Linked DNA regions of Homo sapiens. The protein of the gene in region 4 interacts with the protein of the main gene of each other region in a pairwise test. Each region holds a gene or a part of one and is shown on either strand. Other genes may lie near its edges. The genes, in order: DLST, NEK7, GSN and HSD3B1.

Region 1 (7,026 bases), on a different chromosome or scaffold from region 4:
ACTTCTGCAACAGGAGGACTACCTTATTTCCCAGCCTTCTACCATACATGTTTTCTACTCTGAGCTTCTGGTCTTGCCTGACTAACCTCAATCATGCGGTCTATCTGCCTTATTAGTGTAACAGTGAAAAAGAAATAGACTTCTGTGACTCGTTGGTCTACGGGTACGATTCTCGCTTAGGAAAAAGAAATAGACTTTTTAGTGGTTATAAAATTTAACTAAGAGTCAGATAAAGTTATTAATCTCTAATCCTATCAGGTCCAGTACAAATTCGTTTCTCATTTCTTCCCAAAAGAAATACCAACCCTTCCTAGAGATATGAGAGAACAGATGTGAAAAGAAACAACACTGAATTCCCCATAAAAGACAATGAGCATTTCCTTTGAGCATTCTGTCAGTGCTCAAAAAGTTTTGAAGCATTTCAGATTTTGGATTTTCAGTTTTGGAGCATTTCAGATTTTGAATTTTCAGATTAGGTATGCTCAATCTGTATATCTATAAGAAAAGGTCCAGTTTCTCAGCTCCTGCTAAGAAACACCCATGGAAAGAACAGAGTATAAGGTTTATTTTTTAAAAAATACACTTTTCTTTTAGAATTTGACATTTGAAGTTCACACTATATATAAATTTACCCCTTATTCCCTCAACTAAGGGCAGCTGGAATGACAAGAGTCTTTGACATATCGGGGAATTAGCACATTATGCTCAGTCCCAATCCCAAGAGGGAACACTGGAGACCTTGACCACCAGGAGAACTTCTTTACCACCAGTTTTCCTGAGTGTGAAAAGTGGAGTGCCTCCTTCGACTTTTCCCCCATCAGGTACCAAAAGAGCTTCAATCACGCCATTTGCTGGTGATGGAACCTGCACAGATGTCTGGAAGAGGAAGACAGATGGAGGAAGTCCAAATGTTTATCCAGCATTAGAAAATTAGCTGTATAGAATCTCCAATGAAGCCAGGCACAGTGGCTCATGCCTGTAGTCCCAGCATATTGGGATGCCAAGGCAGGCGGATCACTTGAGGTCAGGAGTTCAAGACCAGCCTGGCCAACATGGTGAAACCCCATCTCTACTAAAAACTACAAAAATGTAATCCCAGCTACTTGGGAGGCTGAGGCACGAGAATCGCTTGAACCTGGCAGGTGGAGCCGATATCGTGCCACTGCACTCCAGCCTGGGTGATAGAGCGAAACGTCTCAAAACAACAACAACAACAGCGTATCTCCAGTGAGTAACAAGAGTTGCAACACAATATATAAGGCCTTGCACACAAACATCTAAGGCCATAATTTCAGAGCAAGGGTGATAACAAGTCATCGCTACTGTGAAGATTCACTTTCTGTCCTTTCTCAGAAACATTCAGGCAATATTCAGTTAATATGTTTCCAAGTGATACAGGAAAAAGTGGAAACAGCTTATTTACCCTCCCCACCCCCTCACCACACACTACAAGACTAAAGCTACTAAATGAAGTACATAGTACACACACAGCAAACAATTTAAAGTTAAATGCAGGTCAGGTGCGGTGGCTCATGCCTCTAATCCCAACACTTTGGGAGGCCAAGGCGGGCAGATCACCTGAGGTCAAGAGTTTGAGACCAGCCTGGCAACACCTGTCTCTACAAAAAATACAAAAATTAGCCCGGCGTTGTGGCATGCGCCTGTAAGCCCAGATACTAGGGAGGCTGAGGCAGGAGAATCGCTTGAACCCAGGAGGTGGAGGTTGCAGTGAGCTGAGATCAGGCCATTGCACTCCAGCCTGGGCAACAGAGCAAGTCTGTCTCAAAAAAAAAAAAAAAAAAAAAAAGTTAAATGTAAAAAGTTGTTTTTTTTTTAAATTGAACAAATCCAATAATTTTACAACTGAAGTTAGAGCTAGTTAAAAATTATCTCTAAACAATGGTTAAGTCCCTGTTTCTTTCATTAGGTTAACTAAGGGAAGCCCATGAAAAGCTGGTACGAATATAAGATAAGCCTACCTTGTCAGTTTCAATCTCACAAACCACTTCATCTTCTGCAACTGTGTCTCCAACAGCTGAAAAGACAATCAAAGGCTACAAGGCTACCTGTTAGCGGGGAGCCTCCAGTAGCCACAAAACCCATTTTGGCAGGTATGTTATAAGAACCCTTTCCTACAGGGCCAGCAGAAAGTACATATGTAAAGAAAACGGCAGAGCTATAAATTCTACAACTATCCTGAGGGGAGGGGAGAATTTTAGATAGCACTTAAACTTAAGAAGTGAGAGGAGCCAGGCGCAGTGGCTCACGCAGTGGCTCAGGCCTGTAATCCCAACACTTTGTGGCAGGCTGAGGTGGGCAGATCACCTGAGGTCAGGAGTTTGAGACCAGCCTGACCAACATGGTGAAACCCTGTCTCTACTAAAAATACAAAAAACTTAGCCAGGCATGGTGGTGGGCACCTGTAATCCCAGCTATTCGGGAGGCTGAGGCAGGAGAATCACTTGAACCTGGGAGGCAGAGGCTGCAGTGAGCCGAGATCATACCACTGCACTCCAGGCTGGGAACAGAGCAAGACTCTGTCTCAAAAAAAAAAAAAAAAAAAATAGGAAACTAAATCTTACCTTTCTCCCACCTGACATCTCCCTCTGTGACAGATTCTGCAAACGCTGGGGTTTTGACTGTAACCAAGTCATCCTCTAGGAAAAATGCAAAAAAGAAAATCATAAGTAGTTCATTTTTCCTTTTTAATATTTTTCTTTAATTAAACTCAATCAATTGTTGCTCTTCCCATAAAATTCCATTCCCAAGAAAGCAGGTACTTACTGCATACAGCTGTAGTTCTGAAAAAGCGAACACTGAAGACACTGTTGTTAATGCTACAAAAGAAACACACGTTAACTCCTTTTAACAGGCGAACCACTCACATTTTAGTCTAGTTAAGGCCCCATGGGTCACCTTCCCCTTAAACAGTGACTCTTGACCAGGGGTGTCCATCAGTGTCACTTGGGGAGGAACTTTTTCAAAGTTCACTTGTCTAGGCCTCTCCCCCAGGGATTCTGACTCAGCAGGTCTGGAGTAGAGCCTAACGACCCAGGTACCTTAAATGGTGAGCTCCCCAAGTATGCTCAGGCCCCTGTGCTGCAATGCAATGCCAACTCTCACAAAACAGACTTACATTTGGCTCTTTCAATAAAAAAATAAGCACCTTGGTCCTTTGCAGACCGAAATGACTTAGCTTCTTGATTTGGTTTTTTGTTTTTTAAGAGATAAGAGTCTTGCTCTGTCACCCAGGCTAGAGTGCAGTAGCATGATAATAGTTCACTGTAACCTCAAACTCCTGGATTTAAGGGATCCTCCCACCTCTGCCTCCCGGGTAGCTGGGACTACAGGCACATGCCACCCAGATAATTTTTTTAAATTACTTTTTGTAGACTATGGATTTCATTGCCCAGACGGGTCTCAAAGATCCTACCCAAAGTGCTGGGATTACAGGAGTGAGTCACCATGTCCAGCCAGGTCTCTTCCTTAACTAAATCCGAGATAGATTTACGGCCTGCCCAGGGTACAAGCCATTGTGCAAGGTATAATGGAATTTCTGCCCTCAAGATAACAGATTTAGATCAGATAAGGCAGCAAGATTAACAAGGTTAACTCGGAAGTAAAACAAGGTGTTATGCCAAAAAAAAAAAAAAAAAACCCAAAAACAAAAAAACCACACACAAACCCCATATGGTATCTCCTACTCGGTTCTCTTGCTAGAAAACAGCACATCAACACATTCTGGATTCATTCAAAACGAACCTCAAAGACCAAGGCGTTTACTGATATGGCCTTTACAGTAAATAATATAAACTGGAGAATCAGCTCACCCTGTATGCACAAAGCCATTAACAGTGGTTACCTCTGAGGGGTGAGAGATGTAGACATATATGGTATCTCTGGTTATGTGTTGCACACTTACACAATTTGGGAGAATGATTTGGATGGGGACTTTCACTTTTTACACTTCAGGATTGTCTGAATATTCCACAACAAGCATTTTTATAATAGAAAAGTAAAAGAGATTTAAGTTGTCTTTAGGTATTTTTACTTTTATAATGTCAAAATAACTATAAGGTCTATGTATAACCAAGAAAAAATGAAGATATTTAAAAACTACAAGAATACAAATTGTTCTACATATAGTTTGTAACCTTGTAAAGTACATGCCTATAGGCAAGAACTAACAGGTAACATGCAAGTGCAGAGGCTGCTCTGCAAGTCATCCAGGAACCCGGAGTGGTGGCCACCACTACCCAAGAGGCATTCGGGGGGCTAGAGGACAAGGATAAAAAAGTCTTCTCATGGACACCCTTTTTACTTTTTGAATTTTTAATCATGTAAATATAATACTATTAGTAAAAACATAAAACCAAAAATTGTTTTACAATAAAAGATTTATTAAATAAAGTGGGTACCTTATTCACAAAAAAGGCACAACACACACAAAGATACTGGATTAGGGTGACATGATTGGGGTGATCCCACACAAAGTTTACTTTTTCTTCATTATTTACTTTCAAATATTTAGTGTATTTATTGTAGAGAGTCATGATTGCCCCAATTTTCATTTGATTGCAGATGAGTAATACATTTTGAATCTCTAAATAACTAGATGTTCACTACAGAATATTAGAAATAGCAAAAAGAATACTTACAATGGGATCATACCACACAGTAGAAAATGAAATTATTTTGTAACCTGCTTTTTCCCACTTTTCATAGTGTGAACATGTGAACATGCTATAGTTTAGCCAATCCCTTGCTCTTTGCCATTTTAAGATAAATCTGATAATATTTATATTATCAGATATTAAATCTGAGATAAATATACCAGGAGTTCTTCAGTATAGATTCCTAGAGATGGAATTGCTAGATGAAAAGGAACACACAGGCCGGGCAGTGGCTCATGCTTGTAATCCCAGCACTTTGGGAGGCTGAGTCGGGCGGATCACCTGATGTCAGGAGTTTCAGAGACCAGCCTGGCCAACAAGATGAAACCCCGTCTCTACTAATACAAAAATCAGCCAGGTGTGGTAGCGTGCGCCTGTAATCCCAGCTACCCAGGAGGCTGAGGCAGGAGAATTGCTGGAACCCGAGAGGCAGAGGCTGCAGTGAGCCGAGATCGCGCCACTGCACTCCAGCCTGGGTGACAGAGCAAGACTCCATCTTGAAAAAAAGAAAAAAAGAAAAGGTACACACACTTCAAAGACTTATGACTATCAAACTGCCCTCCAAAATAACACCGGGATTCATATTTCTAGTACTGAGTGCAACATTTACTCAAATTTTAAAAAATCAGCCAGGCACCATAGCTCACGCCTGTATCCTCCACTTTGGGAGGCTAAGGCAAGTGGATGGATTGCTTGAGCCCAGGAGTTTGACACCAGCCCAGGTATCATGGCAAAACAACCCCATCTCTACAAAAAATACAAAAAACAACCGGGCATGGTGGCATGTGCCTGTAGTCTCAGCTACTCAGGAGGCTGAGGTGAAAGGATCTCTTGAGCCCAGGAGGCTGAGGATGCAGTGAGCCAAGATCAGGCTACCGCACTCCAGCCAAAGTGGCAGAGCAAGATCCTGTCTCAAAACAACAACAACAAAAACCCTCATTGTGATGTAGAGTAAGTAAGAAGCTCATCCGCTGACCTCTTCACTTTGAGGATTCTCCCTGTAGAGTAAGCAGCCTGACAGCTGCTGAACAGGTTACTAGAGAGCATTCTCTTAGCACCACCACAAAAACACTTGGAATGCAAAGCAGCATTTAAGCAACATTCATACGCAGAAGTTAATCTGAAACACACATGGGTAGCCTTTCTCCAAACTCTGCATTATGCAATAACAGCATTCCCTCCAAACTAGTCAGTCAGTCCCAGGACTCAACCAGTTTTATGCTTTTACTGTTTTTAAAAATGAGTAACTATGCTACTGAGAGGATGCTCTCAATCTCCACAATAAATGTAACCTCGAGCCTTTCAGCTGCACTTACATCCAAACAGAATATCTAGGAGCACCCTTCTATATCCCATAAAAAGAGGATTCCAACTTAACTTTCATTATAATCCAAACACCTGTGGAGAGTGGGCACACTCCCAGTCCAAAACCTGACACGGAGCTGATGCTCAAGGAACATCACATGGGAAAAGTGAACATTGAGGTTAGTCTAGGGACTCAACATAATCACCTCAATTTCTAGGTCTGGAGGCCAGTGAAGAAATCAGATGGTCAAATTTAGAACTTTATGTCTTTAAATAAATAACCCGTGGCCACATATCTGTACTCCCCAGTGATACTTACACAACCTTCCTGCTGTTAGGGTAACCTGGTCCCTGGCATAAGGAGACCCCTGCAAGAAACAAAATAACTCTTAACCAACAACTCTTATCTCACAAAGGATACATGCTGGGAATGGAAAAGGTCTGCTCACCCCCAACCCTGAGACAGAGCAGGATCAACGGCAACGGATATAATCTTTATCATAGAGTCCTGCTTCTCAAACTTTTCCAAAGTAGCCTTAGTGGCAGAGAGCAAATGGGTATGTGAGATCGAGTGGGTATGTGTTTGGCTGGGGAGGAAAGAGAAAAAATTTGATGGCACAGCCCAAAGTGATTATATAATCTCATCTACCTTAAAAAGCCAGAACTTTTCATTATTCCTGTATGTTTTCATAATAAAATGTCTCTACTCGCCAAGTCTTCAAATACAACTGAAGCTTGAGAAAGACATGGGATGGCTTATCCTGTGACTATACATAACCCAATTTGAGAAGCAAGGAGGATGTTTGGTCTGGGTTTGAAAAGATTGGGTTGGAAATCTTATCACCTGAATCCTAGTAGCAAAGACTTGGCTACTTTAGGCTCGGGGTCTCCAGTTTGTCCTAGAGCTGAGAAAATCATGTCCCCATCTTTCAGTTTATTGACTTCCCATGCCTTTCTGAAGTCTTCCACCCTGGTCACTCTCAACAAGGTGAGAGACCCTTTCTGCCCACCAGCTGTCCTTATCATAGTTAACTGCATTTCCCCAACT
Region 2 (7,026 bases), about 79 Mb from region 4:
CAATCCAGAACCCTAATTATTTGTACACACTAAGACTCACATAATTCAAAAGAAAAGATTTGACATTCAGGCTTATTTTTCTAAAACTTCTCATTTTTTGTTTTAATGCTTAATTGTTATGTATGTTTTAGAATATAAGATAGGAAATTAAAAGAAAAATCCCAAGCTTTTAAACTCTAGGTTCTTAGATAGAATGACTATATCTAGAAATAAATTGTGTAGGGTTCCTGAGGATTCCTATCAACTGAGGCTGACTGGCAGGTATGGCTAGTATTCTCATGAAATCCTCCCTTAAAATCTTGTTTGGGCAGTAACCTTAAAAATTTGGCAGTAGCTACACAAATTTGGTAAGCTCATAAATACATACCTGATAAGTTGATTTGCTTAAATTTTTTTATTTTTCAAATAGTTACACACTCTGTTATCATTGTAGCTATAAAATTAACAAAATAAACTGTCTTTTAATTAAAAGTTCACTGTTGAAAAACTCTGTACTTCACTTTTTATTAGTTCCTGTATTTTGCCATACTAACAAATTAAATGATATTCTAGATTTTTAAAAGATCTAAAAAGCCTACTTTACTTAAAAAATTTAAGACATTATAGCACTACCAAATTTGGGATTTTTGGCTACCATGAATTCTGAATAATTATTTTACAAATTGAGTTCCTGCTTAAGGAGAGAAAATATTTATTAGCACATCTGCATTTCAAAGCTCTTGTTTTGAGAACTCTTCTACATAACTAAATAGATTAAAGTAACATTGTTATACAGTCCGCATATTTTTATATTCATTTCTTTAGTAAGAATTATTTTCCACATTTACCTAGAAACTACAGCTTTCTATTTCATCAGGGAATGACAACACATTTTACCAATACGAGGAATCACATTTTTTTGGAAAGTACACCATATAATGTGTTTTGCTTTACAGCTCTTTTCGAAACTGGTAACTATATAGAGTGAAGTAAAAAGTGGAATCTATTTTCCTTTCCCAACTCTAAGACCTTCTATCTGGGCCAGACTTTGATATTTGCCCCTTGGCTGAGAATCCGCATATCCAACTTCACACTTAGCTGCAGTGAAGTAGCCCTGCAGGCAGGCCGACTTCAACGAACCACTAGTGGTATCATCATTAAAATCCTGCTGAAGGTCACCATGGTAACCGCCTGCTGAGGCTTCACTGCTGCACTCGGCATCTCCTAATCAGCTACCATGTGAAATGCAAATTCAGACAGTCTGAAAATTAGTCAAGAAGAATAGGGGATGAGGATGCAGATATGTGAAATATTCATGCGCTTCATGGAAAAAAGAAGACAGCATGAATGACACAACAAAGAAAGGCCCCTGACATTCTTGCTATCATTTTGCATTATTGTTCACACCCCACTGTATTTCCAGGCCTATAGTTCTGAAGTTGGTTTTGTGAAATGCCATATTTATAGTCTATACCCAAAATAGTAATTAAAAATGGCTAACATAATAGTATTAACATCAAATAAAGATAATACTTTTAAATTATCATCACTGCTCTGTAACAGTTTATTCTAATTACCTGAATACAAATGCTATGCAGAAAAAAACAGGCATCACTGATTATCAGTATCAAAACTACCAGAAGAAAAAGTGCCTATTATATTCTAGGAACACAAATGCTTTACATGTGGTGAAAATTCTTTAGAGATATTTATTATTCAAGTTACACGAACTCAAATTTCCTTACATAATACTAAGACCCTATGCTATTCGTTTCACAATAGAAAGACTGACATGATTACCTAATAAGTGAACATTATAATTGTTTTATATTTTTCCTTTTCTCCTTTCCATTTTCCTGAGGCAAAAAATCTGTTGCTCATGAGAAGGTGCGATGTCCTAACTCAACACACTATTTTCTCTGGGTAGGTCCCTGATGAGTATTCCATAAAGAGCTAATATGAAACATTTTAGTTGACCTGAGATACTGCTATTCTGCATACATCCTCCTTAAATATTCGTAAAATGATGATACGTTAGGCTAAAATGGGAGATGTTTTGTTCAATGAAAGACTGGACATAGGGTAGAGCCAAAACAACTCACTTCAATGGGTTACCAAAGCAAGCAAGCAAGCATTCAGACTCAGATCTTAATAAGGTAGCCTTCTAAGATTTTCAGCCACAACTAACACACTTTTTAAACATGTCTACAATGATAACCTCGAAACATTTCCCCAGTAGAATCTGAGTATAGCAGTGAGGTGATGATAGGACAGGTATTGTCAAAGGAGAGAAGGTAAAGCTTAAATAATAAGGCTCAGAGATATGTAGTTAAGAGATGCGTGTTTCGAGTTTTGGAAAACATGGACGAAAGGGAAGTTCTGCCAAAATAGAAAATTACAACTGTGTGCTGGTCTGGTCTGGGACTGTGAGAATAAGGAGTTAGCCCTGTTAGGAAGGGCCATCAGACATGATGATTAACTAGAGCCTAAGTATGAGCATTAATTCTGCCCTTTGCACGATTCAGTACACTGTAGAGTCAGCTACTATTCTTATCACACCTAGAAAGTGGCCAATTTTACACCACATGCTGTGTTGTGTTGCACTACACATTATCAATTGCAGAGTCAACTCTTTAGACAGCAAGTCTCCAAGAGAATGAAAACAGAATTAAAAAGTGCTAGTTCTGCTACCTATACCATTCATTTTCATTTTTGGATAAAGTAAAATTTCTTGGTAAAATAAAAATGTTAGCAAAATGGACAACAGAAGAACATGTGGGCTGAAAATGACTTACTTCTTCTGAATAGTGATCTGAAGGAAGAGGTGGGTAGTCACACTGTTCTATCTTCTTACACAGTGAGTATAAATTCATTTTGTCACCATAGAAAGGACTTTGTAATGCAGCCATCTGTAAAATGCCCCCAATGAAACTGATATAGTTAGATGGTAACTTAAAAGGTGATTTCATCAAGTATATTATACGGGGGTAGAAAATAATCACAAATATTTTAAATAGAGATACCTGGGCATTTTGATTTTTATGAATATCCCCTTCTGAGGAAATTTATTAAGAGTTAAAAATCTTACTGCAACTTTTGGTTATTTTTTTTCCAACATTTAAAATTCCCTAAAATAGAGAATTAGCATATTTCTTTATATACAAATGCAACATAAAACAATAAAGAAAAATAACACATAATTTAAAAACTCTTTGTACCTATAATGACACAAAAACAACTACTATATCTCACAACAAAACAGTCATCACAAGGTGTAGCTCAACCATACAGAACAAACATGAAACTGAAGTTAAAACTGAATTATAATCTAGCATAGGGAAGAGAATGCAGAGCATTTTCTCTTGCATAATAGTTTCTGAAGATAAAGGTTATTCTGAGAAAAAGCAGTCTTTTCAATTTAAATGCAATAACTGATCCCCAAATAGTTTACAATGAATTAGAACTCTTTTGATAATGTCTCAAAAACATTAAATTAAATATGTTCAAAAGCTCTATGAGTCATAGCTGTAATTCAAGGCTTCCAAATGAGATTTTTATGCAGAAAAACACGACCCAAAGGATGAACAACTTTAAAAAAGACATTATCGAATTTAAATTTATTTTAAGACAAGGTTCTAACTTGACATTTAAAGTGCAAGCAAGTACTGTGGTAAGCAGTGTTACAAACTAAAAATTCAATTTAAAATGTTCGCATCCTGTTCAAAACCTTCTAAATCTTTGAACCACAGCAGCAAGAATACAACACGGAGTGCCAGGCTGCCCCAAAGTCAGTCACCCTTTTCTACATGTGCTAATAAGTTTGATTTTGGAAGGACAATGTGTACATTCCCCAGACAGGCAGAGTGTGTGTGAAACACGCTAGTCCATGCTGTGCTACTCAGTGAGCGTCAGTGGGGACAGGACAAGCTGAAAATGGCTCTCATCTGTCTTCTGTGCTCCAGACAGAGCTTTAACTCCTTCAGAGCCTTGATGAGAAGGGGATGGGATTGGAAATCAAAACTGGAAAGTAGCTCAACACATTTTTATCTTGCCTATGTTTTACATAAAACGTGCACACAACTATATAGAAGTACCTTAGGAAGAGTTGTTTCACATGACGAGAAAAAAGTTAAAAACAATCTGAATGCCCCTAATCATATAAAACACTCTGAGAGGAAATTTCTAAAAGAACCACAATAATAATAATAATAATAATAATAATAATAATAGTGGTTTTTGTTTTAAATGCAAGGACACTTTAAGATCTTACCTTAAAAATACACTGTATATATAAACTATAGTCTCTCCGTGTTTGCAAAACCTTAAGTAAATGTACATATATTCATTATCATATTCTAGGCGTTCATTATAGTCCTTTTTCTCAGTACTGCAGAGTGTTAAAAAAAAAAAAAATCTGAATGTCCCCTAAGGAGTTAAACAGGAATAGTATATTTTCATGCATCTCCTGCTTTGACAGATGAAAAATGTCAACTGTCCTGTTTTTATTTTCAAGCTTTTGCACTATTCATCTGGTTCATTAGTGCATCTCGATGCTGCCCCTGACAGCTGCTCGCCCTCTCCTCCCAGCAGCTGAATTTTTCAGGCTAATTTGATCCTCCACACTGAGACGATCGCTAGAATGATTGACTTACTCCCTGACCTCCAGGGTCTGACTTTCCTGATTAGTATTCTGGGGGTGTCGGAGGGACGAAAGCCCACTGTCTGTCTTCGGGGCTGGTGGCAGCTCTCTTTTTTTTTGAACTGTAAGCCACCAACCTACAACCCTGTAAGGATGCAATTGCTGCGCTGAACAATAAAGGAAATGTGTAAAACCTACTTTTCCATGTAAAGGTCCGTGTAGCAAAAGCACAGCATCTTGATTTTAATTAGTAAAGTCTACTTTGTTGCATATCAATTAAAACTGTACTGCTAGTTTTTTTTTTTTTTTGAGGTTTCAGGAATATTTGAAAGTCTAATTTTCTGAGTTTAAAATACATTTTCAAAAAAGGCTTCCTACGTCTTCATTGTTAATAGTAATTTTTTAGTGGGTACAATACAAAATACGTGATGTTATGACCAATTTTTAAAAGCCAAACTGTTAGCTATTTCTATTAACAGTACATTGAAACACAACTGAAAGGAAATAGAACATAAATTTAAATTAAAGCTTTAGAAAAATTCTAGTTCTTCTAAAAGATTTGCATGGAGAAATCAAGAAAATGCGTTGAGATGAAAACTAACATTAGCATGATAATACTTTAACTCAAAATCATCCACAATACATATAACTCATGGATGTAGAAATGTCCAAAGATGTTATTTTTATTTTTGTGGCATTTTAAGTCCATACAAAAATGGGACACCGTCTCTCAAAGGCAAATTCAAAATGTGATAAATTATTTCAGTTTTGACATGAGTATGCTAAATCTAAAAGAATTATGCAAACTTCCTCTCAAAAACCACTTACTACCTCAACAGAACTTTTTCTTTTTTATTGCTAAATTTAATCTAGTTATTGGAAACCAATTTGCTGTTTACTTTTAGGGATTTGAAGAGAATATGTTGCTTTGATAATATTAGACTATGGCCTAAAGGAATCTAAGGTTAACTAAACAAATATAAAATATTTTAAATGTACAGAGTGACTAACTTTTAAACATTATAGTAACAATATAAACAATCCAGTTCTTTTTAGGATTGTACCAAATTATTAACAAAATATAACACAGTGAGCGTAATTTCTTGTAATCTCGTGCACATATAAAAACATGTTTTGTTACATTACTGACTCATAATTTTTCATAACAAAAATTATCCAAAGTATGAGTTTATTTAAGAATATTTAAAAATCCTTTCATTTTAAGTAGTTGTTAGTCACTTTAGTAGGAAGGACAAAACAAATAATTTCAGGTTCCTTAAATTAAGGAAATTTGAATCTGCAATGAATAAAATAATAAAAGATCATGACATACATTTTTAAAGAGTCAAAAAACACCTCCTAATGCTCTACTTCCAAGTAATGGTGGTACAATTAAAATAGATGATTTCATCATATATTTCATTTAATTCTGGAGGACAAGAGACAGGAAATATATATAGTAGGAAATGCATTGGTTTCTATTTATCCTCTTTAGACTTCTCTCATATACACAGAGATATGAAAATGATTCCTACACAGGGATATGAAAATGCTTCCATGTATTACATTTCCTCACTTTATTAAAACCTACTTAGATATAGACTAATTTTTAATTAACAGCTTTGACTCGAAGCCTATATTCCTAGGAAAATTATCATTCAATTAAAAAAACAAAATTACAGAAGTCACTAGCTTGAGATACTTTTATACCAACACAGATGTAAAATGTGTTACTAACATGCTTTCTTTTATCCACCCAAATTATTACAGTGCAACATTTCTAGAGGACCTACCTACATGATTCCATCTTCCTTTGATAAATGATCACCAGTAGAACAAAAGAGAGAGTATTTCACTGAGCTTTACCAATACAAATTGTTACTCATGGAAACTAAATTGATAACCTAGAAGAACTATCTGTTTGCATACTATCCTTAATGCTAAATTACACCTGTGTAAAAGTGAAATAAAATATTGATAAAAATATTTACTATACTTTCATATATTAAATCCAATCCATTATGCCACTCCTGTAATGCATGGATCAAGATTTACAGATGTTCAAACGTATATTTTTACAAATGCAAGATATAGAGAAAGGCGTTATATTAACATAAAAGTTAATGCTTTAAAAATAAACTTCTCATCAAAAGAACACAATTTAAAAATATATTAGATGTGTAGGAATGTATAGTTATTAAATTCCATTATACAAAGTTATTAACCCAACGAAAATTCTTCACAATTAAAAAGGTGATTCTTAAACATCCAGAAAAAAGTAAGTATATACTATAAGGATAGAGGAAATATACTAAGTAAAACTGCATCAATATTTGGAATTTATCAACATTACCTACCTCATATAGTAGACAGCCAAGAGACCAGATGTCAGATTTGAAGTTGTATCC
Region 3 (7,026 bases), on a different chromosome or scaffold from region 4:
AAGATGTCTGGGCAGTTCCCACCAACGCAGGCTGCCTCCCCTACGTCTTGACCTCACTATATTTCAAAGCTATAAGGCTGGGCCTCTTGCTGACTAGAAAAAAAAAAAAAAGAACATGCAAATCTTTGGGTACTCTAGATCATGGGTCAGCAAACTTTTTCTGTAAAAGGGCCAGACCGTAAATATTTTAGGCTCCATAGGCTACACACCCTCTCTGTTGCATATTCTTCCTTGTTTGTTTGTTATTGTTGTTTTTTAACAACACTTTAAAACTATAAAACCATTCTTAGCTCAGAGGCATACAAAAACAGACTGGGGCCTCCCCAGGACTGTAGTTTGCATCCATAAATACAGAAAGAATGTTTATAATCTCAAGTATAAAAACTTCTGGTGAAAGGGTTGATCAAATGCTAGCTGTATTTCTCCCCCTTCCAATGGCTTTCTACTGAGTCACTCTCTTTCCTAAAGAAGAACCTACTTTGCTACATAATTAAGCAGCAAAGTATTTTAAGGGCTGTTCAGATTCTAGAAACTCATAGCTGCAGATAAAATAGACAGATAAGTCAGATGTCAAAGACAAGACATTAAAAGATCTGGGCTCCAGGCTAGACCCTATTACTGTCACTGGGTCTTTAGCCCTGAACAAGGGACTTGCCTCTTAAGTCCCTTATCTCATAAGTATTGATTCTACACTAATAACAGATTGTTTTCAAATCTTGCAACTGAAAGTGTGATCCCTGGACCAGCTACATCAGCATCACTAGAAATGCAGAGCCTCAGGCCCCACCCCAGACTTGTGGAACCAGAATCTGCATTTTAACAAAAGCCCCAGGCGATCTTAGAATGCTCTAGAACATCTTTTTTGTCCAGCTGAAACACAGTTCATAAAATCTTTGTTAGCAATGAGGAGAGAAAGGGTCTAAAGACATCTTTCATGATGTCATGGTATTAAGTCTCTGACCTAACACATGTACCAGTGATTTCATAAAGCATTCCACTCTAGGACCAATTGACAGACCAAGATCTACCACTGGATCTTAAAATAAAACCTTAACCAGGTAGAAAGGAGACCTAGGGGAACAGGAAAATGTGTATTCCCCATATTATGGAGGGGTGGGGGCAGGGAATAGGTTAGAGAGAGAAATGACTTACCCAAGACCACACAACCAAGACAAACTAGGCGTATGACCACCACCAGGTTTCTTTCTTTCTTTTTTTTTTATTATACTTTAAGTTCTAGGGTACATGTGCACAACCTGCAGGTTTGTTACATATGTATACATGTGCCATGTTGGTGTGCTGCACTCATTAACTCGTCATTTACATTAGGTATATCTCCTAATACTATCCCTCCCCCCTCCTCCCACCCCACTACAGGACCCGACCACCACCAGGTTTCTTAATCTTCCTTAGTCAGGCCTTAGGTTTCATGAGAACTGAAATCATTTTGGTTTGGTAGAGCAGCAATCAGAGGGCTTGCTGTTGGCTTTGGGAAATTCACTTGCTCTCTCAGGGCACAAGTATCTGTAGCCATGAAGTGAGAGGGTAGAGCCAGGCGATTCCTAAAGCCCTGCTATAAAAGTCATGGTTTGGAAAGTTTTGAGATGAGGAGGCAGTCGGGGGGGTGCGCTATGCCAAGGGTCACCACAGTCACACCAAAGTCTCTGGGGGATGGGATCACAGAGCCAAGTCATTCGGTCCTTTGTGAGGAGGCTGAGGAGGGACCTGGCGTGGGCTCTAGCCATGCATCCCCTTGGGGCCACCTCAGCTGGTCACCACAGGCTGGCACGGATGCTAAGGATGTAGCCCATTTTACAGATGAGGAAAATAGGTCCTTGAGAGGGGCTAGGGCTTCTTACCAAAGCAAGGAATTCTTCCCTTCAACTGACAACAGTGCAAGGGTAGCCTGTATTAAGAAAACCTAACACATGAACACACAGATGTGTGCAAATGGTTGATTTGGGAATAATCAGGCTCTTTATAAATAGTGCATTATATTTTACCAACAGATTTGTTACAAAAAGGATTCATTCAGGGCTTTGATGGCAAGGCTCCCAATGCAATGCTTCTCACACTTGAATTCGCACACGAATTCCATGGGGATCTTGTGAAAATCCAGATTTGGATTCAGTAGACCCAAGGTGGGTAGGGTTGCCAGATAAAACATGAGATGCCCAGTTAAATCTAAATGTCAGAAAGACAATAAGATGTCTTGGTATAATTATGCCCCAAACATTCCAAGGGCCATACTCATGCTTAACTGGCACACTGTTTTTTATTTGCTAAATAAGGCAACCCTAAAGATGGAGTCTGAAATCCCACATTTCTGAAAAGCTCAAAGATGAAGCCTTAGTGCATTTAAAATGCAATTTAAATCTATGAAAACTATATTTTATGCAACCATGAATTTTATGGTCTCTTTTTTAAGACCACTGAACAGTCTAGGCAGGCATCTCCCACCTTCTAAAAGAGCATAGAAAGAATTCTGGCTGCCACTGGAACTGGGAACTTGCCTTCCAAGAGAAACAGGTACTGTGGTGGGAGGGGAGGTGGGAGGGGGATGGATACAGGCTAGCCCACAAAAGCCTGTTTTACCTCCGTTCTGAACGATACAGTTCCTTTGGACTACCAGTTCCTGAAGTGAAGCTCAGGACACCAAGAAACATGGCCGTTTCTTCTCTGAGTCCATGAAATGGGAAGGATCTGTCCCTACCTGCTTCCTTTCCAGGGCTCTTTGGAGTCAGATGAGATAATACAAATTCCCAGCATCCACATGATTGCACTGGCCAAGCATTGTGTTAGGTACTTTGTAGAATTCTGTGAAGTGGGTATTGAAGCCCTAACTGTATAGCTGAGAAAAATGAAACTCAGTGAGGTGATGTCCTCAAGGTCTTAGGGCAAGTGCAAAACATAAACCAGAAGGAGAACCAAGTTCTCTCCACTTCTTCGGCCTGGGATCTTAACTTGTTATGCTTTATTGCTGCTGAATTGTGCAAGTGTATTTGCCAAATGAATGAATGAAATGTAACGTTTCAGGAAAATGGTCGCTGTACTCTATTCTATAAAAGGACAGCTGAGCTTTTTATAACCAGCTTCAGATGCTCCTGAAGAATGCTGCCATTCTCACGGATGGCTGGTAGGAATAAGGACTACTGTAACCTTTATGAGCAGAAATTTGGCAAAATTTAGCATGACACAGATTATTTGCTTGGCCAAACTTTAGCCAGGCTTCTGAACCTTCTCCTAGGCCTACCTGTGCACTTCCTTGTAAAATCCAGTTTTAGCAAAAGAATCCTGCTAAGTCTGTTTAGCCAGAACCCCTCATCCTTGATATCTGATCAGGCTCCTCATCCTCCACCATGCCCCCACTGATGTTTGAATCACCCTGGTTTGTCTTCATCAATAATTTTGTTAGGTCGGTTTAGCAAGAATATCCCTTATTCCTGAGCTTCCTCTTAGTAATTTTCCATCCGCTGACCCCTACCCTGCTCTGCAGCTATCAATTCCCACTCGCCCATGCTGTATTAGGAGTTGAGCCCAAACTCTCTCCCTCACTGTAGGACCCTGTTGCAGTGGTCCCTATGCCCAAGGCAATGTTCCTGAATAAAGACTTCCTTACCGTGTTTTCACAAGTGTCACTGAATTTTTTTTTTAACAAGAAAAAGCTATAAAATGTGTCATTTTGACTCAGGAACTCCATTTCTAGGGCTCACTTCTAGGAAATAATAAAAGAAGAACACACAAAAAAAGTATGCACTAGGTTGTTCATTGCAGTATTGTTTATAAACTGCCTAAATGTTTCATAATTGAGGATTGTTAAGGGAACATGGTACAGGCACACCAAAGATAGAATAATAGTGAGTGATGAAAACTCGGGTGGGCATTTATTTCTACCATAACAAAAAAAAAGTAGGAGGCAAGACCCTTGTTTAAGGACTAAAGAGCCACTGACAATAACAGGGTACAGCCTAGTGCCCAGATCTTTTAATGTCTATATTCGATATCTGACTTATCTGTCGATTTCATCTGCTATGAGTTTCTAGAATCTGAACAGCTCTTGAAATACTTTGCTGCTTAATTATGGAGCAAAGTAGGGTCCTGTAGGAGAGAGAGACTCAGTAGAAAGCCATGGAAGGGGGAGAAATACAGCTAGCATTTGATCAACCTTTTCACCAGAAGTTTTTATACCCAAGATTATAAACATTATTCTCTCTGTATTTATGGATGCAAACTACAGCCCTGGGGAGCCCCAGTCTTGGTTCTTTGGGGGTGATCTTGGGCAAATCCTGTTTCTCTCAGCCTTTTTGTTAATAAATAAAAAGCATTATTTCATTTTTTAATCCCTAGGACTATTGGAATAAAAGATTTAAATTAGAATAAACATTTATCTACTTAGGTATAGTATGCTTTTAAAACTTTTAAAAATTAAATTTAAAAAGAATCCTTAATAACATGAGAAAAATACTTACGATATAATGTTGAGAAAAAACAGAAAGTCAGAACAGACAATTATAAATATAGGATAATTGTGTGGGGGTAAAAAAAAATGCACTGAAAATATCAGGAAGGAAGGGCACCCAGGTGTTGGCAGTGATTTTCTCTGGTTAGTTATGAACACTTCTTTTTTATATATATACTTTTTTATTTCCTAAATTTTCTATCACAAGTGTAATAGAAATAATAAGGGTGGGGGGAAAAGGTCCTTGGAGGTGGGGAGAAAAAAGTACATATGCCACCCACATCATCAACACACACCCAACAAGTTAACTAGTATTTACTTAGTACCCACCAAAACCCAGCTCAGCCACAGTCTCTGTAGCAGGGAAATTAAGGGCCAAGCCCCACCCTGAAGGCTCACATATGTAGAATATATATACTTTGCTTGGCAAATAAGCTTGGCTCTGATGATATTCTTATTGAGGTTGGAAAATAACAGGACTGTTTGCTTAGCCAGCTCAGCAGAATAAACGAATCCACTCCCACTGGTGCGACCCCTTCACTGGAGTTCCCTGCGAGGCTCCATGGCTTAAAGCCTTTCTGGATCACTCTTGGGAAGAGTCAATTTCAGGGATACTTTATAGCCCAGGAAGAAAACTGTTCTCATCCCTTAACCCAGGCACTGAATGCAAGAGGTGAAGAGGCTCCCCATGAGGCAGAGCAAGCAAGGGAGGAGGGAGGAGCAGGAGGGCCTGGGAAGGAACCTGACAGGCTGTGTGTGGGCCCTGGGGACCCCTGGGCAAAGGAGCTCACGTCTCCAGGCCTGAGTTTCCTCACTGGTAAAATGGGTCACATAATGACAACCCCAGGACTATTGTGAGACTCAAAGAAGAGAACGTAAGTCCTTTCATTTTTCTAAACTGAGCCTCAGTTTCCTCATCTGTAAAATGGAGTCACTATCTCTCCCCTCGTAGATCTGTTAAAAGATTAAAGCAGATAGTGAAAGCAAAAGGTGAACATACATAGTAAGTGTGTTACATATGGTGGCCCTTATTATTGTTGCTTGTAGAGCAGGGAATGGGATACATCAACAAATCCTAGGCCTCAACTCCCTTATCTGCAAAATGGGGCAATCAATTCAGTCCGAAAAGATTAAATTCAAGAACAGTAGCTGAATCACCAGTTGCACCACTGCGGGCTCACTTTGTGTCTCAGACATGCCGGACCCAAGTACATGTGGGGAGCACAAAGCCCTCCAACTCAGAGGCCATCAGAGCTGGGAAGGCTGACATTATGCTGTCCACCCTACAGTGCAGAATGGACACTGGGGCCCAGAGAAAGGCATGCATTAGCCCAAGTCACCCAGTACTTTGTCACTGGCAAAGCCAGGACCCAAGCCCAGGCCTTCAGCTGCCTACCCTTGCCCACAACACCCACTGCTTTTCTCTGCCCTATTCTTAAATTGCTGATGTGGTCCCAGGCAGGGCAGACGAGAGCAGGCATATGGCAGGGGAGGGACAGAGGGAAGGGGAAGCTGGCCAGCAGCAGGAACTGAGCCTGCCTGTGGTCTCCAACTTCACAAACCACATCAGGCTGAAATATGACACACGCTCACTCCGTTGAAAGCGAGGAGATATTTTTACTTAACATCCCCCGGCTGCCTAAACACTGGTCTCTTTTTTTCCCTTCCTCCCCAAAATGCATAACCCCTGGGACGTGCTTTTCTCTGCTTCTGCTGGCATTTTCTCAGGGAATAACCAAGGAGCAGGAGAGTGTCCAGTTTTCCTGGCTTCGCCAGATAGATTTCCAGAGCATAAGCTTGATTGATGAAAAGGGGGGACCAGTCCTGGCTGGGCTCTCACCTCACCACATGACCTTGCTGGGCAAGTCCTGTGTCCTTTTGGAGCCTGGATTCCCTGAAATGGAGGGGAGATTGACCTGCACTGAGGGTCCTGCGGATGGCACAGGAAAGCATGAGTTTACAAACAGCCCCGGGAGGCCCCTCCAGGCCTCTCTGCTGCAGGGCTGAGCTCTCCAAGCTCTGCACACCGACACCCACCCCTCATAAAAGCATAACAAACTCCCTTACCAGTTCTCCTAATACCAGGACTAGAAAGAATTTTCAAGAGAATGTTTAGTGCTGTCATTAATAGCTATGGCTCTGTCGTCAGACCTCTGGAATCCTTGCACCATCACCCAATAGCCACACAACCCGGGGCATGTTATTCAGCCTCGGACTCAGTTTCCTCATCTGTAAAAGAAGATACTAGTATCTACCTCAGAGGAATGGTTGCAAGGAATCAATAAAGTAATTAATGTTCCAGTGCTTGGTATATTAAAAGATAGCTTTTTTTGTCTTTTCTTTTTTTGTTTTGAGACAGTATTGTTCTGTCATCCAGGCTGGAGTGCAGTGGCGTGATTTCAGCTTACTGTAACCTCCGTCTCCAGGGTTTAAGCAATTCTCATACCTCAGCCTCCCAAGTAGCTAGGATTACAGGAGCATCCCAGCACGTATTTTCAGTAGAGACAGGGTTTCACCATGTTGACCAGGCTGGTCTCAAACTCCTGGCTTAAGCCATCAACCCAACT
Region 4 (7,623 bases):
AAATCCACAGGAAGTGACGCTGCCAGTAAGGTTGTCACCTGGAATTAGCCCACAAAATGAACACCATGCTACATGGAGCTTGGATAAATACTCTACACTTGTTTGTGCTTTATCATCTGTATGCAACTTACAGGATATTTATTTCTTTTTACAGCTATCTCATGAGGTAGGTATTCTGAGTCCCACTTTATCAGTGAGGAAACTGAGTCTCAGAGAGGTTAAGGGACAGATCTAAGGTCACGTTTCTAGTGAAGGCTTAAACACGCCCACCCTGCCTCCAAGCTTGTACCCTGTACACCAGGTGCAGGACTGGCTGTTTAATATCAACTTTTCTGTTGTTTAATATCATTCTTTTCCAAAGAATAAGCCAGTTTAACTGAAATTGGCAACAAAGACCAAAGACCAGTGAGAGCAAAATTCAGAGTGAAAAATTCGAAGCTGGAGAAATTCCTTCCTGGGGTACAAGCAGGACCACTTGCTCTCCTGATGCCTCTGCCATGTTTTGTCTACTCCCAACCTCTTCCCGTTGTCAGGCAACTCCAAGAAGGTCCTGGAGTGGGGGAGTCAGGGAAGAGGCTGCTGGTGGTGATGTGGGTAACAGCCTGAGAGTGGGATGTTCTCTGGTTCTAGTTCCACCTCTGCCCTTCCTGCTGCCTTCCTCTGCTTCTTCTTTGCTGCCACTTCAGACAGACTGGCTCAAAGGAGTGTCAAAGTGGAAGAAGTCCAAAGCTGAGAGAAAAGGACTCTTCCCCAGTGAGTTCCCAGGGATCTAGAGGGACTAGGAAAAGGTACTTTGTTGATGAAGTCATGGCTCCCTTCTTCTCCAAGGCACTGTAGACTTGGCAAGTGTTTTATGTAGACTAAATGGAGTTGCTTTTATGGTGTAAGTTGGGCTAGAGGAAGGCCTAAAGGAGCTGTAAGACAAACTACTGCTTAAGAGCACAGATGCTGCACTAGTCTGTCTGGGTTCAAATCTAGCTTTGCCATATGCTAACTGTGGGACCTTCAAAAAGTTAACTAACCTCTCTGTTTCTATCTCCTCATCTTTAAAAAAGGAGGATAATATTACCGATCTCATAGGGTTGTTATGAGGAGCAAATGAGTTGGCAAACCTTTGGCCAAGTGCCTGGCACAAAAAGAACACTGAATGCTTTCTCTGTTTTTATCTTCATACAGATCCCTGCCTGTCTATTATATGATCTGCATTTTTACCATAGGGGAACAATACCTCTAGGCTGAGCATTGCTTTTTTCTGGCTTCAGATGTTAAATTGCAAATATTGCTGAGACACAGGCAAGGATTATAAGCATTTCATATTTGTTTATCAAAGACAACATTAAAACAGAGGGTGGAAGAAATCGAACATTTCAAGAGGTCAGAGAAGAGCAAAAGTAGAGTGTTGGGTGTGGTCCCTGAGTGCTGTCAAGTGGGGGATTCTCTGTGGGCAGGGCAGGACCCTCTGGGCAGCCAGAGCCCACATGTAGACACACAGTCCCCCAAATCCCCTGGGTTGGGGAGGAGGACAGGGAATTGTTTTGGGGCACACCAAGGAGCAAAGGGAGAGACTGAAGATCCACTTTGCCAAGCATCAGCTCTGGGGCCAGGTGAAATAGCCTATGGATAAAGCTCTGGTCTGAGCTCTGCTACGCATCAATCAGATGGCCTTAGCATGTTGCTTTGTGATTCCGGACCTTGATGCGTTCATTGTCCTGTTGGATGTGATGCCTTTTCTACCTGCCTCTTGGGGCCATTTGTACAAGGAGTTGCCACAGAAAATTCTGCAGTCAATTTCTTTTTGATGATGAGCAACAGAGGTAAATGTTTTGTTTTTTTTTTTTTAAAAAAAAGCCATATATGCAAAATCTAAATGAGGCATGTCTGGCCTTATACTGCCTCTTACTCTGTCTCTGCTCTGTGCTGTGCACTGTGCACACACATTCTCTCACTGATGCTCTCTCTCTCACTATATATTTTTCATTATTTCTCTGTCTTTCTCATTGTCTCTCTCTCTGAGTCTCTCTCCCCGACTCTCTCTCCCCGACTCTCTCTCCCCCTTATTGTTTTCCTCTCTCTCTGTCACACACACCCACTTATACACTCATCTTTACCTTAACTTCCTTTTATTTTGCCCTCACAAAGGATACTAAGGAAGCTGCAAAACAAAACACAGCCTGGCACGTTCTAGAGAGACAATGACCCATTGGTGAGGTCTCCAGGGTAATAGTGTCCTTTATGAATGTTGTACAGCAATTGCCAAGACAAAAGCTTCAGAACATAAAAGAGTTGCAGACAAGACAAAGAACTGATGTGGGATTTTCTAGATGAGAAGAAAAGAGGCCTGGAGGCTGAGGTGGCTGCTTCTCAAGTTCTGGGTCAGGGCCAGAATCTAGTCTCTGGAAATCCCACCCAGTATCTTTCATACTATGCCATTTTATACTATTTAATATTTATTTCTTGATGACTTTGGATGTGAGATTGGCTTAGATTTGGCTACAAATTTCAATAACTTGCTAGACAAGGTCCATCTCCCCCCACATACATGCAGTGTTTAAGATGGAACCACACACCCATGACCCAAGTTTACTTACTAGAAAATTCCTCTCTCAATTCTGGTCCGAAGGCCTTGTCCAAGACCCTGATCTCCTTCAGCTCCTTCTCCTTCACCAAGAGGCGGATGATCCTCTGTCCCAGAAACCCTCCTGCTCCTGTCACAAGGCAGCTCCAGCCCGTCATGGCCATCCAAAGTAGCAGGAATCACTCACCAGGAAACAGAAGATGCTGGGGAGCAGATCTGATTCTAGGGTGACCCTGGAGAGGGCTAAAAAGAGATGTCAAATGGTTATATACTCACACAGATGCCTCATTTTCCTCCACCCCATTTTTTTTGCAAACATTCTGTGTCCCCACCACTGCAGGAGTAGCTGAAAGAAAATGAAAAATCTCTAACCATTAGTTAGATTGTTAAAAGCTGGACAGAAGAGTGGACGTACTTCTCACCTCATTTCCTGTGGCAAGTCTGAAGCTTTATGCACTGTGGCTTCTGGCCCAACCCTTATCACTTTGATCTCTGGCCATGTACTCATTGCTCTCTCCTCCTATGGGATCCTTATCTCAGAAAAATAGTGACCTTTGGGTTACATCTCTAATTCTTCCCAGGAACAGGAAGAGAAGTCCCATCCTAATGCTGCAGTGTGGCAAAGAGTCTTGGGTTTAGCCTTAACAGGACACTAGTCAGTTGATACCAGCTGTCTGGGATCCACAATCTGTGAACTTAAACTAGACCAGGAGAAATCTGCAAGTGCAATTTGAATTGTGCCCTTGTTCAGTAAATCCATCTGGAGGGAAATCCATGTAAGCCCATTATCTCCTCTCTCAGACTATCATTTGAAATGTTGCTGCTGTCTTACAAAATTTAGAAATTTGCAATGGTGACAGCTCCAATCACTTAGTTTTATGTGAGGTGACTTTCTTTCCTACCCAATATATCTGAAACCTCAATGGTCATTTGCCCCTGGAGAGCCCTGGGTTCCTAGATGAACAACATCATTGAAGGAAAGCTATCTGGTGATAACCACTTAATGATATGGCCTGTATCACAAGAGTGGGGATTTGTGGTTGTATGCCCCAATGACTCTTATCATAGGTGTTCGAACTTATCCATATTTTTGGCTGCAAAACGATTCTCAGCAAATTCTTGAACTGGACATACTGTGAATGCTTCTGAAGCCTATGCCCCAGAACTGCCCAAATATCACCGCCATAAGCTTCCCAAGACACTTTACTCAAAAAAATTGAAATATAATTTACATGCATTAAAATGCCCAGGTCTTCAGTGTTCAGTTCAGTGGAACTTGACAGTTATATATGCCCATGTAAGTAGCACCCCAAAAAAGATATAGACCATTTCCGTCACTCCAGAAAGTTGTTTTCTGCCTGTTCCCTGTTAATTCCCTGACCTTCCCCCAATCTACCTCATAGGCAACTACTTCCTGATTTTTATTCCCACAGTTCTCATTTTATTTCTATATTTCTCTAATTTTTTCTTCTAAGATCTCTGTGGTTCTGGATATATATTTAAATATAAAATTATTTTGAAATGAAGTTTTGTGCAGGGAGTACAGAAAAATTGACCGTTGATTGTCTCTGTTGTTTATTTTTCTATTTCATGATTTTCATTATTTTTATTATTGGCTTACATTTATTAATTTTGTTTTTTTTTTTCACTCGTTTTTCACATTTTTTTTTTTTTTTTTTGAGATGGAGTCTTGCTCTGTCACCCAGGCTGAAGTGCAGGGGCACCATCTCAGCTCACTGCAACCTCTGCCTCCCGGGTTCAAGCAATTCTCCCACCTCAGCCTCCGAAGTAGCTGGGATTACAGGTGCCCGCCACTGCACCGGGCTAATTTTTGTATTTTCAGTAGAGGTGGGGTTTCATCATGTTGACCAGCTGGTATCAAACTCCTGACTTTGTGATCTGCACGCCTCAGCCTCCCAAAGTGCTGGGATTACAGGCGTGAGCCACTGCACCCAGCCCCGTTTTTCAGGATCCTGATAATAAAAGCATAGAAAATTGTTTTTCTTTACTCCTTTCCTATTTCCACTATAGGCATTAAAAGTTGTAAATTTCTCTTTAAGCACTGTGTGAGCTGTACCCAACATTTTGATGTATTGGGTTATCATCATTCAGTTAATAATATTTAAAGTTTTGTCTTGTGGTTTCTTCTCTGACCCAAGTGTTATTCAGAAGTGTGTTGCTTGTTTTCTAAAAGTGAGGATTTTCTAGATATCTCATTGTTATGGATTTCTAATTAAATACTACTGTGGCCAGAGCATATGCACTGTATGATTTTGATTCTTGAATATTTAGTGAGATTTGTTTTATGGTCCAGCATATGGTCTACATTGGTGAACATGCCATAAGCACTTGAAAAGAATGCTTTCTGCAGTTGTTGAAAGTAATACTCTACAAATGATTTAGTTTGACACCCCACTCTGGGTCTTGCCCTCCTCCATGTTGTAGACATTCATCTTCTACTTTGGACCTCACTACCAATGCTTCAAAACCACTTGCCTAGGAAAGGTTGGCCTTGTGCTACAAGATGTAGCAGCTTGTTCTCTGAAACTATCAGAACTATTTACAGGCCCTGGGTCTTGCTGAGACTTGTGGAGTACTATCTGAAACTACCCAGGTGCATCGCATGCCTTTGCCTGCTGTAGCAGTGCTGGAGAGCACCTTAAAGATCCCCCATCGCCTTCAGTGTGGGGCTGGACTTTCTTTCAGCTGTTGAACGTTCTGGAGGCTCGTAGATTTCAGCTCATGTGTCTTGGAGTCTCTGAGTGGAAGCAATAAATATAAGCCCTAAAGAAAGGGAGAAATAAAACAAAGGTCCAGAGTGATTGGGAACCATACTACCAACTTTCTTTTATTTTTAAATAGGTTTACTGAGGTATAATTGACATCACATTTGCTTGTTTTAAGTGTACAGTTCAATTATTTTTAGTAAAATTTTATACTTGTGTGGACCATCACTGTAATCCTGTTTTCCAACATTTCTATCATTCCTAAGAAATCCCTCGTGCTCATCAGTCACCATTCCTTACTCTTACTCACAGCTCAAGGCAACCTTTAATTGACTCACTGACTTTACAGATTTGCCTTTTCTAGACATTATATAAATGGAATCATAGAATATTTGGTCTTTGTATTTCTATTCTTTCACTTAGCTTAATATACTTTTTTTTTTTTTTGAGACAGAGTCTTGCTCTGTTGCCCAGGCTGGAGTGCAGTGGTGCGATGTTGGCTCACTTCAACCTCCACTTCCGGGTTCAAGTGATTCTCCTGCCTCAGCCTCCAGGCACCTGCCACCATGCCTGGGTAATTTTTGTATTTTTAGTAGAGGCGGGATTTCATCATGTTGGCCAGGCTGATCTAAACTTTTGACCCCAAATGATCCACCCACCTTGGCCTCCCAAAGTGCTGGGATTACAGGTGTGAGTCACCACACCTGGCCAGCTTAATGTTCTTTTGTGGTTCATCTATGTTGTAGCACGTATCAATATTTTACTCCTTTTAGGTGCCAAACCCTATTAAATTGTATGGATGGCTCCCATTTGTTTATTCATTCATCAATTGATCGATATTTGATGTGTTTCCACTTTATGGACTATTATGGATAAAGCTGCTATGAATATTCACATTCATGTGTTGTGTGGACATAGGTTTCTGTTTCTTTGGGGTAGACAGCTAGGAGTGAAAGTGCTAGATCATAAGGTAAATGTATATTTAACATTTTAAGGAACTGGCAATCTGTTTTCCAATGTGGCTGCATGTCCCATCAACACTGCAAGAGTAGTTCAATTTTTCACATCATTGTTTTTCACTTCTTTCAATTGTTTATTTATTTATTTATTTTATTATTATTATACTTTAAGTTTTAGGGTACATGTACACAATGTGCAGGTACATGTGACATGTTGATGTGCTACACCCATTAATTCGGCATTTAGCATTAGGTATATCTCCAAATGCTATCCCTCCCCCCTCCCCCCACCCCACAACTGTCCCCGGAGTGTGATGTTCCCCTTCCTGTGTCCATGTGTTCTCATTGTTCAATTCCCACCTATGAGTGAGAACATGCGGTGTTTGGTTTTTTGTCCTTGCAATAGTTTGCTGAGAATGATGGTTTCCAGCTTCATCCACGTCCCTACAAAGGACATGAACTCATCATTTTTTATGGCTGCATAGTATTCCATGGCGTATATGTGCCACATTTTCTTAATCCAGTCTATCATTGTTGGACATTTGGGTTGGTTCCAAGTCTTTGCTATTGTGAATAGTGCCACAATAAACATACGTGTGCATGTGTCTTTATAGCAGCATGATTTATAATCCTTTGGGTATATACCCAGTAATGGGATGGCTGGGTCAAATGGTATTTCCAGTTCTAGATCCCTGAGAAATCACCACACTGACTTCCACAATGGTTGAACTAGTTTACAGTCCCACCAACATTGTAAAAGTGTTCCTATTTCTCCACATCCTCTCCAGCACTTGTTGTTTCCTGACTTTTTAATGATTGCCATTCTAACTGGTGTGAGATGGTGTCTCATTGTGCTTTTGATTTGCATTTCTCTGATGGCCAGTGATGATGAGCATTTTTTCATGTGTTTTTTGGCTGCATAAATGTCTTCTTTTGAGAAGTGTCTGTTCATATCCTTTGCCCACTTTTTTATGGGGTTGTTTGTTTTTTTCTTGTAAATTTGTCTGGGTTCATTGTAGATTCTGGATATTAGCCCTTTGTCAGATGAGGAGGTTGTGAAAATTTTCTCCCATTTTGTAGGTTGCCTGTTCACTCTGATGGTAGTTTCTCCTGCTGTGCAGAAGCTCTTTAGTTTCAGTAGATCCCATTTGTCAATTCTGGCTTTTGTTGCCATTGCTTTTGGTGTTTTAGACATGAAGTCCTTGCCCATGCCTATGTCCTGAATGGTATTGCCTAAGTTTTCTTCTAGGGTTTTTATGGTTTTAGGTCTAACATGTAAGTCTTTAACCCATCTTGAATTAATTTTCATATAAGGTGTAAGGAAGGAATCCAGTTTCAGCTTTCTACACATGGCTAGCCAGTT

Evidence for each region.
Region 1: the proteins of HSD3B1 (region 4) and DLST interact in binary tests that used the Homo sapiens proteins (3 or more experiments, as listed by UniProt).
Region 2: the proteins of HSD3B1 (region 4) and NEK7 interact in binary tests that used the Homo sapiens proteins (3 or more experiments, as listed by UniProt).
Region 3: the proteins of HSD3B1 (region 4) and GSN interact in binary tests that used the Homo sapiens proteins (3 or more experiments, as listed by UniProt).

What each region holds. Positions count from the first base shown.
Region 1 is NC_000014.9:74,884,906-74,891,931, reverse strand, and holds part of DLST (dihydrolipoyllysine-residue succinyltransferase component of 2-oxoglutarate dehydrogenase complex, mitochondrial isoform 1 precursor), read right to left. Parts: intron 6,347-7,026; coding exon 6,298-6,346; intron 2,838-6,297; coding exon 2,785-2,837; intron 2,658-2,784; coding exon 2,583-2,657; intron 2,036-2,582; coding exon 1,980-2,035; intron 877-1,979; coding exon 765-876; coding exon of another isoform or gene 706-764; exon of another isoform or gene 1-705. UniProt on the Homo sapiens protein: Dihydrolipoamide succinyltransferase (E2) component of the 2-oxoglutarate dehydrogenase complex. The 2-oxoglutarate dehydrogenase complex catalyzes the overall conversion of 2-oxoglutarate to succinyl-CoA and CO(2).
Region 2 is NC_000001.11:198,292,989-198,300,014, reverse strand, and holds part of NEK7 (serine/threonine-protein kinase Nek7), read right to left. Parts: coding exon 6,976-7,026; intron 2,889-6,975; coding exon 2,775-2,888; intron 1-2,774. UniProt on the Homo sapiens protein: Protein kinase which plays an important role in mitotic cell cycle progression. Required for microtubule nucleation activity of the centrosome, robust mitotic spindle formation and cytokinesis.
Region 3 is NC_000009.12:121,271,137-121,278,162, reverse strand, and holds part of GSN (gelsolin), read right to left. Parts: intron 6,354-7,026; exon of another isoform or gene 6,300-6,353; intron 1-6,299. UniProt on the Homo sapiens protein: Calcium-regulated, actin-modulating protein that binds to the plus (or barbed) ends of actin monomers or filaments, preventing monomer exchange (end-blocking or capping).
Region 4 is NC_000001.11:119,502,587-119,510,209, reverse strand, and holds the start of HSD3B1 (3 beta-hydroxysteroid dehydrogenase/Delta 5-->4-isomerase type 1), read right to left. Parts: upstream 3,001-7,623; 5' UTR 2,948-3,000; intron 2,819-2,947; 5' UTR 2,734-2,818; coding exon 2,589-2,733; intron 1-2,588. UniProt on the Homo sapiens protein: A bifunctional enzyme responsible for the oxidation and isomerization of 3beta-hydroxy-Delta(5)-steroid precursors to 3-oxo-Delta(4)-steroids, an essential step in steroid hormone biosynthesis.